Linked DNA regions of Homo sapiens. The protein of the gene in region 1 interacts with the protein of each later gene in a pairwise test. Each region holds a gene or a part of one and is shown on either strand. Other genes may lie near its edges.

What was found.
Region 2: the proteins of PTPDC1 (region 1) and CRKL interact in binary tests that used the Homo sapiens proteins (3 or more experiments, as listed by UniProt).

The regions. Positions count from the first base shown.
Region 1 is NC_000009.12:94,104,946-94,108,597, reverse strand, and holds part of PTPDC1 (protein tyrosine phosphatase domain-containing protein 1), read right to left. Parts: intron 771-3,652; coding exon 654-770; 3' UTR 1-653. UniProt on the Homo sapiens protein: May play roles in cilia formation and/or maintenance.
Region 2 is NC_000022.11:20,927,389-20,931,040, forward strand, and holds part of CRKL (crk-like protein), read left to right. Parts: intron 1-3,652. UniProt on the Homo sapiens protein: May mediate the transduction of intracellular signals.

The DNA.
Region 1 (3,652 bases):
ACAAGCAAAAAATCCCAACCACTTCACAGTCACTCCATTAAAGTAAAACTAAATCTCTCTGAAAAATAATATGCTTTGAAACCCTCTGTTACATTTATAAAAAGAAAAGGAAAAACAAAAAATTTCAAAGTTAAAAAAGAAACCTTTAAAAATATTGTAGCAATAGCCTTCTTCGTAACAAATATAAAACAGCTTAAGACACTTGGTGACTTTCTTAGTTCATCTGTGGGGGAATGGATACACAATGAGGTTTTACTACTAAAGTTAGCTATTTGGTAAAAACTCTAGGAAGAGTTCCATCAAGAAAATGGTTATTTTGGAAAGACAAGTTATGATTATTTCCAAAATGTCAAAAGAAATAAGAATGTAAACACCATATACTTAAAATGTTAATACAATAATATTAACTCAGTCAAATAAATAAAAGAAAGTGGCACCAAATTTATGGCAATTTTTCAAAACAAAAATGTAGCTTAAATATATTTTAAAATAAATAATTGGTTCAAATACGGACGACCATTCTCAGCACAAACTAACAACATTCAAAATAAAGTGCTATGAGAAAAAGTAGCCCCACAATCTTCAACTTATTCACATATGAACAGAGATACTATCTGGATCTTTAGGTCTGAAATATTCACCACGAGTGAAAGCTAGAGGCCAGGCTTAGGGCCATCTTTTGTCATTTTTCTTTTTTCTTCCAGCGTGTGCTTAAATATTTTCTTCAGGGTGTTGTAAACTGTTGGTCCATTTTCAGAATCAAAATTAACCTGGTGACAAAGAAATTTATATTCAGGACACTGTAACAAGAATTTGAACTAGTTTCTATTTTGAGAGAAGGAGGGGGTGGAGAAAAAAAACAGACTTACAAACAAAACTCTATATAAAATACACATAATAAATTTCACACATTTTATTTGAAAGACTATTAGAACTGCCAACCATGTCAATATCAAACTTATGAATGAAAACCCCAAAATTAAATCTAGTGCCTGGATATTTAGTCTAATTATATACACCCAGTCATGAAGCAAGTCAACAGTGGGTGTGAAGTGAATTTTTTGAGACTAATCATTGATGGTATAAGAGAAAAGTTTCCCATATTAAAACAGCACATCAGCTGTATACGTCCTGCTGAGAGGCCCTACGGCCACTCTGGACAGGGTCAGAGTGACCTGAATAGAAGCCCAGCTCCCCACCTGCCAGCTACATGTCCTCATCTCATACCCAACCTCTCTGGACCTTGATCTCCTCCTTTGTAAAACAGAGATAATGATACCCACCTTCATAGGATAGCGTATCTATGAGTCTAACATGTTTGGCACATATATACAAACCTCAACTGGCTGGGTGTGGTGGCTCATGCCTGTAATCCCAGCACTTTAGGAGGCCGAGGTGGGAGAGTTGCTTGAGCCCAGGAGGTTGAGACCAGCCTGGGCAACATGGCAAAACCTCATCTCTACAAAAAATTAAAAATTTAGCCAGGCATGGTGGCACATGCCTGTAGTCCCAGCTACTTGGGAGGCTGAGGTGGGAGGATTGCCGGAGCCCAGGAGGCAGAGGATGCAGTGAGCTGAGATTGTGCCACTGCACTCCAGACTGGGTGACAGAGTGAGACCTTGTCTCAAAAAACAAACAAACAAACAAACAAACAAACAAACCCCACCTTGATAAAGTAAATTTCCTTTCCCCTTGATGGGAGCGCACTATTTACACATATTTGCATTTTTCACCCAAGTTTACCATACTCTGGGTTAGCAGTGATGGCAGGACAGAGAACCAGAGCAAGTACCCACCCTCAACCCCATTCCCAGAGTAATGTGTAACTCCCTGGGAAAGAATCAGGGTCACACAATCACTGCTTCTCTGCTTCTGGAATTTCTCCCTCTCTGATAAATTTTGACAAATGAAAGGTTGTTCCCTCTGTCAACAACTGTAAAGGATCTGAGACCTTAACCTGTTAGCTTGCCAGTGTTATGGATACTGGTAGAAGATACGAGATTCCTGGGTCAGAGACAGACAACTTTTATTTCTCACAGCTGCATGTGCTTCATGTTCACATGGGTTCTCCTTGTCTCTCAAGTCTCATGGAGGCAATGCAGAAGGGCCTAGGTGGAGGCTGCACAAGCACGGGGTTTGCCTCATAGCTGAGGAGCCCCAAGCTTAGGAAACTCCAATGTTTCACAAGGGGGCTGCAAGCAAATCTGCCAACCTTTGCCCTGAAGGGAAACATTTTTATTATCCTGGAAGTCAGAACGTGTGCCTTCTGCTCTCCAGGCAGAGCTCTCCAGACATTAGTGAAGAGTTGATCCTCAAAGAGAGTGGTCAGGGCATCTGCTCATCAGACTATGAAGAGACATGAGAGACCCAAGGAAAACTGTCTCCTAACATTTTCTATAGACAGATTTTGAACAACTGTTATCTCTAACTTTTCATTCGTATCCCCTTAAAAGGCCAAAAGAAGTTGTAAAGAATTCCTACTGCTTTCAGAGAGACCAATCGTAAGGATTTTTTTCAGTTAAGCTCAGGAATTTAATTTTATCTATAACTATATTATCTATCCCCTTTGCAAAAAACTCCTTATTAACATTAATAATGGTGTGAATTGTTTACTTTTTTTTTTTTGAGATGGAGTCTTGCTCTGTCGCCCAGGCTGGAGTGCAGTGGTGCAATCTTGGCTCACTGCAAGCTCCGCCTCCCGGGTTCACACCATTCTCCTGCCTCAGCCTCCCGAGTAGCTGGGACTACAGGCGCCTGCCACCATACCCAGTTAATTTTTTTGTATTTCTTTTTAGTAGAGATGGGGTTTCACCATGTTATCCAGGATGGTCTTGATCTCCTGACCTCGTGATCTGCCCACCTTGGCCTCCCAAAGTGCTTGGATTACAGGCTTGAGCCACCATGCCTGGCCACTTTTTTTTTTTTTTTTTTGAGACAGAGTCTCGCTCTGTTGCCAGGCCGGAGTGCAGTGGCGCGATTTCGGCTCACTGCAACCTCCACCTCCCGGGTTCAAGCCATTCTTCCACCTCAGCCTCCTGAGTAGCTGGGACTGCAGGCGCACACCACCATGCCCAGCTAAATTTTTGTACTTTAGTAGAGATGGGGTTTCACCATGTTGGCCAGGATGGTCTCAATCTCCTGATCTCATGATCCACCCATCTCAGCCTCCCAAAGTGCTGGGATCACAGGCGTAAGCCACCACTCCCAGCTCTGTTTACTTTCTTAAACACCAAACCACAACCTTCTTCACATGGTGGGTAGCCTCTCAGTCTATGAAAGTGTAAATACAGATGTAAAGGACCACGCGGTTTGGATTTGAGACTACTGACTCTGGAAACAGTGGAGAACAGATTGAAAAGATGTCAGTGGTTAGTGCCATAGAATCCAGATGAGGAACAAGGAAGGCCTGAAGTAAGAACATCACTCCGGAAAGAGTGGAGGGGAAGGAGACTGGACAAATATTAAAAAGGAAGAATCTTTATAACTTGTTAATGAGTATAAATAATAACTTCTTATCATTAATGTTACCACAGATGTTGTCATTCAAAAGCTGGGTTCTTTGTTTAATGACACTTTCATATCAATGAGAGGTAACAAACAAATTATAGATACTTTCATATCAATGAGAAGTAATAAACAAATTATAGCTGAT
Region 2 (3,652 bases), on another chromosome or scaffold:
CCATATTGGACCAGGCTGGTCTCAAACTCCTGACCTCAGGTGATCCAATTGCCTCGGCCCCCTAATGTGCTGGGATTACAGGCATGAGCCAGTCACCACGCCCAGCTGGAATTAAGTTTTCTACCTTTTTTTTTTTTTTTTTAACTGTGAAATATTTCATACATAGAAAAGAGTAAGGGTGCCGTGGCTCACGCCTGTAATCTCAGCACATTGGGAAGCCAAGACAGGTGGATCACTTGAGGTCAGGAGTTCGAGACCAGCCTGGCCAACGTGGTGAAACCCTGTCTCTACTAAAAAGACAAAAATTAGCCGGGCGTGGTGGTAGATGCCTGTAATCCCAGCTACTTGGGACGCTGAGGCAGGATAATTGTTTGAACCCGGGAGGTGGAGGTTGCAATGAGTTGAGATCGCACCATTGCACTCCAGTCTGGGTAACAGAGCAAGACTCTGTCTCAAAAAAAAAAAAAAAAAAAAAAAAGGAAAAAGAGTAAGCCTGGGCACGTTGGCTCATGTCTGTAATCCCAGCACTTTGGGAGGCCGAGGGAGGCAGATCACTTGAGGTCAGGAGTTTAAGACCAGCCTGGCCAGCATGTGAAACCCATCTCTGTTAAAAATACAAAATTAGCCCGGCAGTAGTGGGGCCCTGTAATCCCAGCTACTGGGGAGGCTTAGGCACAAGAATAGCTTGAACCCAGGAGGCAGAGGTTTTGGTGAGCTGAGATCACACCACTACACTCCAGCCTGGGCAATAGAGTGAGACTCTGTCTCAAAAAAAAAGTATATGTAAGCTGGGTGTGGTGGCATGCACCTGTAGTCCCAAATAGTGGGGAGGCTGAGGTAGGAGGATTGCTTGAGCCCAGGAGTTCAAGACCAGCCTGGGCAACATAAACCCCCATCTCTGCAAAAAATTAAACAAGGATTGGCTGGGCATGGTGGCTCATGCCTGTAGTCCCAGCTACATGGGAGGCTGAGGTGGGAGGATCACTTGAGCCTGGGAGGTCAAGGCTATAGTGAGCCATGATCGTACTGCTGCACTCCAGCCTGGGCCATAGAGCAAGACGCTATCTCAAAAAAATTTACAAAACAAGCCAAAAAAAACTATCATCTGTGTGCTCCCTTTAAAAAATAAATAAATAAAACATTGGCCAGGCGTGGTGGCCCAGACTGTAATCCCAGGACTTTGGGAGGCTGAGGTGGGAAGATTGCTTGAGCTCAGGAGTTCAAGACCAGCTTAGACAACATGGCAAGACCCTGTTTCTACCAAAAATACAAAAATTAATCGGATGTGGTGGCATGCACCTGTAGTCCCAGCTACACAGAAGGCTGAGGTGGGAGGATCGCTTGAGCCTTGGAGGTTGAGGCTGCAATGAGCCATGATTGTGCCTCTGCACTCTAGCTCGGGCAACAGAACGAGATCCCATCTCAAAAAAAAAAAAAAAAAAAAAAAAAGGAATATTACCAGCACCTTTGAAACTTCCTTTTTCTAGAAGTTGATTGTATTGGTTCTTAGCATGCATAAGGAGATTTTAAGCTTAGAACATATTAGCACTTGGTTTAAAGATGTTTTGTGTATGGTTTATACATGTAGAAACTGAGAACGCTTTTAACCAAAAGAGCTGAGAGATTCGTTATCATCAGAAAAGAAAAGTCAGTTACGAATTAGTTGTTAGGGGCTTTGCTGCTCAAAGTGTGTAGTGGACAATAGGCAAAAAGTGAGAAGCATGGTCAAGGGTGTTTGGATGGGCTTGAAAACCCTGTGCATTTTATTTTATTTTATTTTATTTATTTATTTTTGAGTCGGAGTCTCACTCTGTTACCCAGACTGGAGTGCAGTGGCGCGATCTCGGCTCACTGCAAGCTCTGCCTCCCGGGTTCACACCATTCTCCTGCCTCAGCCTCCCGAGTAGCTGGGACTACAGGCGCCTGCCACCACGCTCAGCTAATTTTTTTGTATTTTTAGTAGAGATGGGGTTTCACTGTGTTAGCCAGGATGGTCTCGATCTCCTGACCTCTTGATCCGCCCGCCTTGGCCTCCCAAAGTGCTGGGATTACAGGCGTGAGCCACTGCACCTGCCTTATCTATTTAATTTTTTGAGACGGAATCTCTGTCTGTCGCCCAGGCTGGAGTGCAGTGGCATGATCTCAGCTCACTGCAACCTCCGCCTCCCGGGTTCAAGCAATTCTCTTGCCTCAGCCTCCCAAGTAGCTGGGCCTACAGGCACACGCCACCACACCTGGCTAATTTTTGTATTTTAATAGTGACAGGGTTTTGTCATGTTGGCCAGGTTGGTCTCAAACTCCTGACCTCATGATCCACCTGCCTCGGCCTTCCAAAGTGCTAGGATTGCAGGCATGAGCCACTGCGCCTGGGCAACACTTTATATTTTAAAGGGAAGTTGGGGGAGGGTGCTATTTTCAACCTTGCTCAAAGAACAAATAATTGGGAAGCAATAAATTTTCTGATGAATATGCTTCATATTTCTTTAGACAGTGGGGTCTAATGGAAAGGCTAAGATATCTGACATGGAGCAACATGTATTTATCTCTTCAGTGGAACTAATGTGTAATTTTCAGGGGAGTTTGATGAATAAATGAGTTTGAGAATATAGGGCAGAGGACTTGGAATTTGTGTCAGGGTTATGGCTGGTGAGATTGATTTGGTGTCAAATTTATGAATATCTCTGCAGATACTAACACAGAAAATGAGCCCCAAGGTCACTATAGCAGTATAGTAGTGGAGGGAAATAGAAACTATCTTTATCAAATTTCTACACAGACATACCCCTCACCAGGGAAGCAAGGAAGTTGAAAAGCACACTTTGCCTCCCTAACCCAGGAATTTAGATGGGGGATCAGCAAACTGTTGAGTAAAGGGTCAGATTTTAAATATTTTCAGCTTTTCCATAGAGTCTCTGTCCAACTACTCAACTATGCCTTTGTAGTGAAAAACAGTCATAGACAATACGTAAATGAATGGGCTTGGCTATCTTCTTTTTTTTGTTTGTTTTTAAGATGGAGTCTTGCTCTGTCACCCAGGCTGGAGTGCAGTGGTGTGATCTCAGCTCATTGCAACCTCTGCCTCCCAGGTTCAAGCAATTCTCTTCCCTCGGCCTCCCAAGTAGCTGGGCCTACAGGCGCACGCCACCACACCTGGCTAACTTTTGTATTTTTAGTAGTGACAGGGTTTTTTGTCATGTTGGCCAGGTTGGTCTTGAACTCCTGACCTCAAGTGATCCTCCCGCCTCGGCCTCCCAGTGTTGGGATTACAGGCGTGAGCCACCACACGCCTGGCTTTTTTTTTTTTTTTTTTTTTTTTTTTTTGAGATAGAGTCTTAACTGTTTCAGGCAGTGACGTGATCTTGGCTCACTGCAAGCTCCGCCTCCCGGGTTTACACCATTCTCCTGCCTCAGCCTCCCGAGTGGCTGGGACTACAGGCGTGTGCCACCACACCTGGCTAATTTTTTGTATTTTTAGTAGAGAGACAGGGTTTCACCGTGTTAGCCAGGATGGTCTCAATCTCCTGACCTTGTGATCCGTCCACCTCAGCCTCCCAAAGTGCTGGGATTACAGGCGTGAGCCACCACACACTGGCTAACTGCTTTTAACTATACAAATAATAAAATACTCTTGGATGGAGTCTAAGGTGGAACT